Linked DNA regions of Homo sapiens: region 1 is linked to region 2. The links come from fine-mapping of genetic effects on gene expression. Tissue or cell type: whole blood. Region 2 holds a variant in brackets; the other region holds the start of a gene. All regions are shown on one strand. Distances are between the middles of the regions.

What was found.
Region 1: TSPAN16-AS1 starts here. The variant in region 2 is fine-mapped to the expression of TSPAN16-AS1 in whole blood (TOPMed, PIP 0.99).

Annotation. Positions count from the first base shown.
Region 1 is chr19:11,319,049-11,324,419 of GRCh38, forward strand. TSPAN16-AS1 (TSPAN16 antisense RNA 1) reads right to left here and starts at 2,277. Exons shown (of 3, transcript NR_187778.1): 1 at 2,176-2,277. It overlaps RAB3D (RAB3D, member RAS oncogene family), which reads right to left. Exons shown (of 5, transcript NM_004283.4): 5 at 3,020-5,371. It also overlaps a transcript of TSPAN16 not described here. RefSeq lists an enhancer at 5,200-5,371.
Region 2 is chr19:11,286,733-11,292,103 of GRCh38, forward strand. No RefSeq gene overlaps it. Among named protein-coding and RNA genes, the nearest start is that of TSPAN16, 6.7 kb to the right of the region's middle. The variant C/T (reference allele first, on the strand shown) is at 2,977.

The DNA of each region.
Region 1 (5,371 bases), 32 kb after region 2:
ATTCAGTTCTGACACCAATTACCCAGAGTTGGTGTGTGACCCCACAGATTTAAGGGCTGAGTCCCACAAAACTGAGCTTCCCTCACTTCAGAGGTATCAAGTATTGAGTTCCCAGGTTACCCATATTTCTGTCCAATGTGGCTACAAAGTCAGGGGGGGTTCTCACAAGCCCCCTCCCTTTCAGGTTTGATAATTTGCTAGAATGACTCACGGATCTCAGGCAAGTGTTTTACTTACTACTCCTGATTTATTATAAAGGAGACAACTCAGGCCAGGCGCAGTGGCTTATGCCTGTAATCCCAGCACTCTGGGAGGCCAAGGCGGGCGGATCACGAGGTAAGGAGTCTGAGACCAGCCTGGCCTATATGATGAAACCCCGTCTCTACTAAAAATGCAAAAGTTAGCCGGGCGTGGTGGCACACGCCCTGTAATCCCAGCTACTCCGGAGGCTGAGGCAGAAGAATCGCTTGAACCGGGAGGCGGAGCTTGCAGTGAGCCGAGATCGCGCCACTGCACTCCAGCCTGGGCGACAGAGCGAGACTCTGTCTCAAAACAAACAAAACAAAACAAAACAAAACAAAAAAACAAAAAAAGGAGACAACTCAGGAACAGCCAAATGGAAGTGATAAAGAGGGCAATGTGTGGGGGATGGTGTGCAGCACTTCCACACCCTTTCTTGGGGAGGGGGGCACCACCCTTCCAGCACCTCCATGTGTTCATCAACTCAGAAGCTCTCCAAACCTGTCATTTAGGTTGTATTTTGTTTTGTTTTGTTTTGTTTTTTGAGACGGAGTCTCGCTCTGTCGCCCAGGCTGGAATGCAGTGACGCGATCTTGGCTCACTGCAAGCTCCACCTCCCGGGTTCACGCCATTCTCCTGCCTCAGCCTCCCGCGTAGCTGGGACTACAGGCGCCCGCCACCACGCCCGGCTAATTTTTTTGTTGTATTTTCAGTGGAGACGGGGTCTTACCGTGTTAGCCAGGATGATCTCGATCTCTTGACCTCGTGACCTGCCCGCCTCCGCCTCCCAAGGTGCTGGGATTACAGGCCTGAGCCACTACGCCCGGCCAGGACTTTTTTTTTTTTTTTTGAGACGGAGTTTCTCTCTTGTCATCCAGGCTGGAGTGCAATGGCACGATCTCGGCACACCCCAACTTCTGCCCCACTTGTTCAAGCGATTCTCCCGCCTCAGCCTCCCGAGTAGCTGGGATTACAGGCATGTGCCACCAGGCCCAGCTATTTGTTATATTTTTAGTAGAGATGGGGTTTTGTCATGTTGGCCAGGCTGATCTCAAACTCCTGACCTCAAGTGATCCTCCTGCCTCAGCCTCCCAAAGTGCTGGAATGACAGGCATGAGCCACCACACCTGGCCAATCCTAGCACTTTGGGAGGCCAAGGCGGGAGCATGGCTGGAAGCTGGGAGTTCAAGACCAGCCTGGGCAACATAGCAAGATCCCATCTCTCAATCACTCAATCAGCTGGATGTGGTGGTGCTTGCTTGTAGTTCCAGAAACTCAGGAGGCTGAAGTGGGAGGATCCTTTGAGTCCAGGAGTTCGAGGCTGCAGTGAGCCATGATTGTGCCACTGCACTCCAGCCAGGGCCATACGGCAAGACCTTGTCTCCAAAAAAAAAAAAAAGAAAAGAAAAGAAAAAGAAAAAAGAAATGCTGGGGAGGGAGATTGCAGTACTAAATCAGGGGAGGGGGCAGTGAGAAAGTGAGATTTGCACAGTAGCCCAAAAGAGGAAGTTCAGTTAGGGGAGCTTTGTTGTATTAGTCTGTTTTCCTACTGCTGGAAAGAACTGCCCAAGACTGGGTAATTTATAAAGGAAAGAGGTTTGCCCGTGTACGGTGGTTCACGCCTGTAATCCCAGCATTTTGGGAGGCCAAGGTGGGCAGATCATGAGGTCAGGCGTTCGAGACCAGCCTGGCCAACGTGGTGAAACCCCGTCTCTACTAAAAACACAAAAATTAGCCAGGCGTAGTGGAGTGTGCCTGTAATCCCAGCTACTCGGGAGGCTGAGGCAGGAGAATTGCTTGAACCTGGGAGGCGGAGGTTGCAGTGAGCCAAGATGGCACCACTGCACTCCAGCTGGGTGGCAGAGTAGGACTGAGTCTCAAAAAAAAAAAAACAAAAAAATACCCAAAAAAACATAAGAGGTTTAATTTACTCACAGTTCAACATGGCTGGGGAGGCCTCAGGAAATTTACAATTATAACAGAAGGCAAAGGGGAAGCCAGATACCTTCTTCACAAGGTGGCAGGAAGGAGAAGAGCCGAGAGAAGGCGGAAGAATCCCTTATAAAACCATCAGATCTCGTGAGAACTCACTTGCTATCAGGAGAACAGCATGGGGGAACCGCCCCCAGGATTCAATGACCTCCACCTGGTCTCTCCCTTGACACGTGAGGATTATGGGGATTACAATTCCAGATGAGATTTGGGTGGGGACACAAAGCCAAACCATATCAACTGTGACTACCTTGGGTAAGGGCCATCCAGGCAGAGGCAGGGGGAACATTCTGGGCAAAGGCCTTGGGGCAGGGGCCTGGTATGTTCAGATAGCAGCAAGTAGGCCAGAGTGGCCGGAGGGGAGCAAGTGTGGGGAGGCCAGTGGAGAGATGAGGGTAGGGAAGGGATGGATCAGATCATGCAGGGCCCCGGGGGCCACAGGAAGGACCTCAGCATTTACTGCAAGTAAGGTGGGAGCCATCGAATGTTCTAAGCAGAGGAGGAATGCGCTGTGACTCAGGTGTTCACAGGTGCCCTCTTGCTGCTGGGGAGAGAACTGAGCTTTTTACTAGAAGTAGTTGAGGGAAATAGTGTCCTCCCTACCTTCCATATAACAGAGCTTTCCAAGGTCAAGGTGGTGGCCATGGGACCCAGTGGGAGGCAGCCCGAGGCCCGGTGAGGTTTCTGCTGTGTCTTGAAGAGCCCTTGACTGATATCTGCTTAGTTGCAAATCAAACCCCCTTTCCCAGAAACGCACTTCACTAATGGAAATAAAAGCACAACTATATTTGGGCACGACGGATTTAAGTTTTTCTTGTTGAGAAGAGTACATCTTTCCAAACTGGACATCAAGGAATTGCTACACAGAAGAACCACATCCAGGATAGAAAGGACCAGCCAGAGCTCGTTCAGTAGTGTATTTCAGAATCATCAGGGAGGAGCCGGTAGCAGAATTATCCCGTTAACACTGAGACCACATTTCACCTGTTACTTATTTTTCTAAATGGAGTAGGAGAGAAAGATGCTAAAATGTGATCTTGGGAGGAGTCCCCCAGTCCCCCGAAAAAGAAGAAGAAAAAAAAAAAGCAGAACTCCAAACCCCTGTGGTCATGGCAATTTCCCATCAAAACTGCCCATGTAAAATAAACACAAGCTGCTAAAAGTGAATGTTAAGAAGGAAGGCACTGGTTAGTGGGTGGTCCTGACCAATCCCCTGGAGCTGGAGAGGGGTTTTCCCACGGCCTTTGGTTTAATGTGTCTGTAAACTCAACAAACCTCCGTTTCCCTGAGGTAATCTGCAAAAACATCAGTTTTCAGTCCCCAGAGACCATTTCCAATTAAACCTCACCCCCCAAATCATTCAATGTAACATTTGCCTTATTTTTAGAAGAAACAAATGTTCCCATATTATTCCCAGTTTTTGAGAGAATCCTGAGGCAGCTCTCTCGGCTGCTACTTGAAGTTGAATTCTTGAAAAATCTTATGTAAACAGAAAGCTTAGGCCAGGTCAGGAGTAAAATGCAGTCAAAGCTGTTTCTCATCACACAGGTGATTACAGGTTAGCTCTGCCCTATTCAAGACAATCTGATCCATTCCTTTTTTTGACAGCAGTTTAGAGACAATTGGCCAACAAAACCAGCCTGGCCAACAAGGTGAAACCGTCGCTACTAAAAATGCAAAACTTAGATGGGCGTGGTGGCAGGTGCCTGTAGTCCCAGCTACTTAGGAGGCTGAGACAGGAGAATCGCTTGAACCCGGGAGGTGGAGGTTGCAGTGAGCTGAGATCATGCTACTGCACTGCGGCCTGGGCGACGAGCGACTCTCTGTCTTAAAAAAAAAAAAAACAAAAAAACCTCAGCAGGCCATACTGCATCTTGAGAAGTCTTTTTGAAGCTACTTTAGTTTGACTTTAGTGTTAAAGTAGCTAAAAATTTTTGACTCCCGCCCACATATTCAGATACCCTCACTTTGTGCATAGGATTTGTCCATTACACCTCAGTCATCTAATTTGTTGGTATAAAAGATACCCTCGGCTGGGCGTGATGGCTCACGCCTGTAATCCCAGCACTTTGGGAGGCCGAAGCAAGTGGATCACTTGAAGTCAGTTTGAGACAAGCCTCACCAACATGGTGAAACCCCTTCTCTACTAAAAATACAAAATTTAGCCGGGTGTGGTGGCAGGTGCCTGTAATGCCAGCTACTCGGGAGGCTGAGGCAGGAGAATCGCTTGAACCCTGGAGGTGGAGGTTGCAGTAAGCTGAGATTGTGCCACCGCACTCCAGCCTGGGCAATAGAGCGAGACTCTGTATCAAAAAAACAAATGAAAAAAAGATACCCCACTCCAAAGTTCTAAGGGTAGCCTCTGGTATGAAGAAACCAGGGCTCCCTAGAAATAAATCTAAACTTGAACCAGGCTTTCCCCCTCACACATACCCCAGGGAAGAGGCTGAGCTCATGAAAGCTGCAGGAAGTCATTTTGGCTTCAGGGGCTGGGAGAGCAGACACAACCTCTGAAACAGAGTCAGGGACGTGGGAACATAAAACATCCACTTAGCCATCCTAACAGTGCTGGTCCTGTGAAGGGGTGTTGGTTGGTGTTTGGGAGCAAAGAAAAGGTGCTGCGCCCCTAGAGTTTGGAATCTGATGGGCAGAAAGTGCCTCTAAACCGGAGGTCAAGATGTACATCTTCAAACTGCACACGTAACCTCTGAGCAGAAGCCCCTGGAGGTGGGGACCCCAGCTTCAGAGACTCCCCGGCACTGATCACAGTCCATCCCCCCCATTCACATAAGGTCCTGCCACTCTCAGGCTGTCTACAAAGTACAAGCAGTGACAGCAAGTTACTCAATCCTACCTCCTCACCCCTTCCGCCCAACCCCCAGCATCCCTTAGAAGTGACCCCTAGTTTGAGGCTGTGGTGAGCTATGATTGCACCACTGCACTCCAGCCTGGGTGACAGAGCCAGACCATCTCAAAAAGAAAAAAAAAAAAAAAGAAGTGACTCCTCCATTAGCAAAAATTGTCACATCCCTGGGCCCTGCCGATGACAAGGATTGGGAAATGGACATTGGGTCTTGAAGGGCCCCCCTCAAGTCGGAGCCCAGGTGCTTACATCAGAAAGTCGCCGACAACTGCCTGC
Region 2 (5,371 bases):
TTAGATTTTTGGGAGCTGCCATAACAAATCATCACCAGCTTGCTGGTTTAAAACAACAAGAATTTATTCTTTTATTTTTTGAGACACAGTCTCCCTCTGTCGCCCAGGCTGGAGAGCAGTGGGGCGATCTTAGGTCACTGCAACCACTGCCTCCCAGGCTCAAGCGATTCTTCTGCCTCAGCCTTCTGAGTAGCTGGGATTATAGGCATGTGACACCATGCCCGGCTAATTTTTGTATTTTTAGTAGAGACAGGGTTTTGCCATGTTGGTCAGGCTGGTCTCAAACTCCCGACCTCAGGTGCTCCGCCCGCCTTGGCCTCCCAAAGTGTTGGAATTACAGGCGTCAGCCACCACGCCCAGCCCCCTAAAATTTATTCTTTCACTGTTCTGGATGCCAGAAGTCTGAAATCAAGGTGTCAACAGAGCCGTGCTGCCCCCAAAAGCTCTGGGGAAGGTTCCTTCCTTGCCTCTTCCAACTTCTGGTGGCCCCTGGTGGTCGCTGGATTGTGGCCACGTCACTCCAATCACTGCCTCTTCCATCATCTTGTGGCCTTCTCCCCTCTGTCTGTGTCCAAATGTTCCTCTCCTGTCTCTCTTTCTCTCTCTCATTTTTTTATGAGACAGAGTCTCACTCTATTACCCAGGCTGGAGTGCAATGGTGTAATCTCAGCTCACTGCAACCTCTGCCTCCTGGGTTCAAGTGATTCTCCTGCCTCAGCCTCCCTAGTAGCCTGGAGTACAGGCGTCCACCACCACAACCAGCTAATTTTTCTATTTTTAATAGAGAGAGGGTTTTGCCATGTTAGCCAGGCTGACCTCAAACTCCTTGCCTCAAAATCCACCCACCTCACTCTCCCAAAGCACTGGGTATTACAGGCATGAGCCACCACACCTGGCCTCCTTTTTTTTTTTTTTTGAGATAGAGTCTTGCTCTGTCACCCAGGCTGGAGTGCAGTGGCGCGATCTCGGCTCACTGCAAGTTCTGCCTCCTGGGTTCACGCCATTCTCCTGCCTCAGCTTCCCGAGTAGCTGGGACTACAGGCGCCCGCCACCATGCCTGGCTAATTTTTTTTGTATTTTTAGTAGAGACGGGGTTTCACCGTGTTAGCCAGGATGGTCTCCATCTCCTAATCTTGTGATCCACCCGCCTTGGCCTCCCAAAGTGCTGGAATTACAGGTGTGAGCCACAGAGCCTGGTCTTTTTTTTTTTTTTTTTTTTTTTAACCAACAACCTTATTTATTTATTTTTGAGACAAGGTCTTGCTCTGTTGCCCAGGATGGAATGCAGTGGCACCATCATACCTCACTGCAGCCTCGACTTCCCAGGCTCAAGACATCCTCCCAACTCTGCCTCTAGAGTGGCTAGTACTACAGATACACGCCACCATACCTGGCTAATTTTTATTTTTTTAGAGACAGGGTCTCGATATGTTGCCCGGGCTGGTCTTGAACTCCTGGCCTCAAGCCTCCTGTCTCCTCTGGTCTTGCCCTCCCAAAGTGCTGGGATTACAGGCATGAGCCACCACCCCTAACCCCTCTCCTATGTCTTATAAAGACACCAGATATTGACCAGATATTGGATTTAGGACCTGACCTAAATCTAGGCTGACTTCATCTCAAGATGTTTAACCAATGACATCTGCAAAGACCCTGTTTTCAGATAGGGTCTCATCTGAGGCTCCAGATGGATATGAATTTTGTGGTGACATGACTTAACCCACTGTGGTGCTCACGGTAACCAGAGCTGGACATGAAGTTCTACAGGAACTGCGAGAACATTAGCAGGTACCGGGCCGAGTCATTTCCCTCTATTCCCACCAGGAGGCCTTGTAGTCCTGTTCCTTTTACAACATTTATTTCTTTTCTACTGTGGCAAAATATATATAACTTAAAATTTTGTCATTTTAACCATTTTAAGTGTACAGTTCAGGCCGGGTGTGGTGGCTCACACCTGTAATCCCAGCACTTTAGGAGGCTGAGGTGGGCGGATCACTTGAGGTCGGGAGTTTGAGACCAGCCTGGGCAACATGGTGAAACCCCGTCTCTACTAAAATTACAAAAATTAGCCGGGCATGGTGGCACGCTCCTGTAGTCCCAGGTACTCAGGAGGCTGAGGCAGGAGAGTTGCTCGAACCCAGTAGATGGAGGTTGCAGGGAGCTGAGATCGCAAGATCACGCCACTGCACTCCAGCCTTGGCAACAGAGCAAGACTCTGTCTCAAAAAAAAAAAGAAAAGTACAGTTCAGCAGCATTAAGCACATTCACATCGCTGTGCAGCCATCACCACCATCCGTCTCCAGAACTTTCTCATCTTTCCAAACTGAAACTCTATCCCCATGAAACACTCACTCCCCACGCTCCTCTCCATTCCCTGGTACCCACCATTCTGTTTTCTGTCTTTATGAATCTGATGACTCTAGGGACCTCAAATGAGTGGAATCATGCAATATTTGTCTTTTTTTTTTTTCGAGACAGAGTTCGCTCTGTCGCCCAGGCTGGAGTGCAGTGGCGTGATCTCGGCTCACTGCAAACTCCGCCTCCCGGGTTCACATGATTCTCCTGCCTCAGCCTCCCAAGTAGCCAGGATTACAGGCGCCTGCCACCACATACAGCTAATTTTTGTATTTTTAGTAGAGACGGGGTTTCACCATGTTGGCCAGGCTCCAAACTCCTGACCTCAAGTGATCTGCCAGCCTTGGCCTCCCAAAGTGCTGGGATTATAGGCATGAGCCACCGCGCCTGGCTCCCGTTGTCAATTCTTTTAGTTAAGAATTTGAGCAGGTGTGGTGGCTCATGCCTGTAATCCCAGGATTTTGGGAGGCTGAGGCAGCCAGATCACTTGAGTCCAGGAGTTCAAGACCATTGCTAGAGCCTGTCTCTACCAAAAATGGAAAAAAAAAAAAAAAAGGCAGGTGCGGTAGTGTGTGCCTGTAGTCTCAGCTACTCAGGAGGCTGAGGCGGGAGGATCACTTGAGC[C/T]CTGGAGTTTGAAGCTACAATGAACTATGATCACATCACTGCACTCCAGCCTGAGCAACAAAGTGAGATCCAGTCTGCAAAAAAGCAACAAAGATTTCTGCATTCATTTTCTCAGCTTTTGAGCATCTTTTCCTCTAGTTGGACAATCTTATACTTAATCAGCTACTAATACTTTCAAAGGGCATTTAAGGCCGGGCACGATGGCTCACGGCTGTAATCCCAGCACTTTGGGAGGCCGAGGCAGGTGGATCACCTGAGGTCAGGAGATCGAGACCAGTCTGGCCAACATGGTGAAACCCTGTCTCTACCAAAAATACAAAAATTAGCTGGGCATAGTGGGGCATGCCTGTAGTCCCAGCTACTGGGGAGGCCGAGGCAGGAGAATTGCTTGAACCCAGGAAATGAAGGTTGCAATGAGCTGAGATTGCACCACTGCCCTCGGCCTGGGCAACAGAGTGAGACTTCGTCTAAAAAAAAAACAAAAAAACAAAAACAAAGGGCACTTAAGTTGTTGTTTCCAATCATTCACAAGTCAAGCGAGGCTTAAGAGCAGGCATTAGCAAAACTACATTCTGCCACCCATTTTTGTAAATAACAAAACCATCTCATATTATAAATAACATTTTATTTTGACAGAGTCACACTTGTTCATTTACATATATTTACATATTGTCCATTTACATATTTTCTATGGCTGCAATAGCAGAGTCCCAACAGAGACGGTATGGTCCGCAAAGCTGAAAATATTTACTTTCTGGCTCTTTCCAGAAAAATCTGCCAGCTCTTGGCCTATGTGCATTTGAATAAATCTGTAGTAGGAATTCCTAGAAGGAGAAACATTCCCCACAAGGTTTTAAAAGTCCATTTGCGGTTGTTACAGGTCCGCCTGTAATAAAATCTCCAAAAGCTATTTATGAGGTCTTTTTTTTTTTTTTTTGAGACAGAGTCTCACTGTGTTGCCGAGGCTGGCGTGTGCAGTGGCAAGACCTCGGCTCAACGCAACCTCCGCCTCCCGGGTTCAAGCGATTCTCCTGCCTCAGCCTCCTGAGTAGCTGAGATTACAGGCATGCACCACCATGCCCGGCTAATTTTTGCATTTTTGGTAGAGACGGGGTTTCACCATGTTGGCCAGGCTGGTGTCAAACTCCTGACCTCAAGTGATCCGCCTGCCTTGGCCTCCCAAAGTGCTGAGATTACAAGCGTGAGCCACTGCACCTGGCCAACCTTTTCAATGTGTTTAAGTGAGATACTTGAGGAATATGGGATGGGAACAGTCTTGGCCACCCTGGGACCAGCTGCCCAGACAACAGAGGGAATTAGAACCCGATCCCCCATGCTAACAAGAACAGAAGCCCCCTCGAGATGTGTCACCTGCATGCACTGGTCTGGGGCCACTCGCTGCTTCCTGAACTCTCATCAGGACCCTCCAGTCCTCCTAACCCTTCAAGGTTGATACCCCTGAAACCCTCCCTTCTCATCACTGCCTGGGTATACCTTATATACTAAATATTTTTAATATTATCAAGGATCTTGGCTGGGTGTGGTGGCTCATACCTGTAATCCCAGCGCTTTGAGAGGCTAAGTCAGGAGGATTGCTTGAGCCCAGGAGTTCGAGACCAATCTGGGAAACATAGCGAGACCCCTGTCTCCACAAAAAATAAAAAAATTAGCCGGGCGTGGTGGCACGTGCCATTGGTCCCAGCTACTCTAAAGGCCAAAGCGAGAGGATCGCTTGAGCCCAGGAGGGTGAGGTTGCAGGGAGCTGAGATCACACTACTGTACTTCCAGCCTGGGAGACAAAGCGAGACCCTGTCTCAAAAAACAAACAAACAAACAAAAACCCATCTCCTGGTTCTCCTTAATTTCACTTCCCTCTTTTCCAGCCAGAAGCTAAGGTAGCTGAAGGGGTAGAAATTGCAGATCTTTCTTTATGTAGCAAGAGAGAGGAACTGGGAAAGCAGTGAGTGTCCCTGTAGGACAGGGGTCTTCTTATTTTATTTTATTTTTTTGAGACAGAGTCTCGCTTTGTCGCCCAGGCTGGAGTGCAGTGGTGCGGTCTCGGCTCACTGCAACCTCCATCTCCCCAGCTCAAGCAATTCTTCTGCCTCAGCCTCCTGAGTAGCTGGGATTACAGGTGCCCACCTGTAATTAACCGCATCCAGCTAATTTTGTAGTTTTAGTAGAGACGGGGCTTCCCCATGTTGGCCAAGGCTGGTCTTGAACTCCTGACCTCAGGTGATCCACCCGCCTCGGCCTCCCAAAGTGCTGGGATTACAGGTGTGAACCACTGTGCCTGGCCTGACAGGGGTCTTCTGATCACTCCTCAGTGCCTCCCAACCCACCATACAGAGCACAAAGTGTTAACCCTAAGGCAGAATGTGAACATGGGGAAACA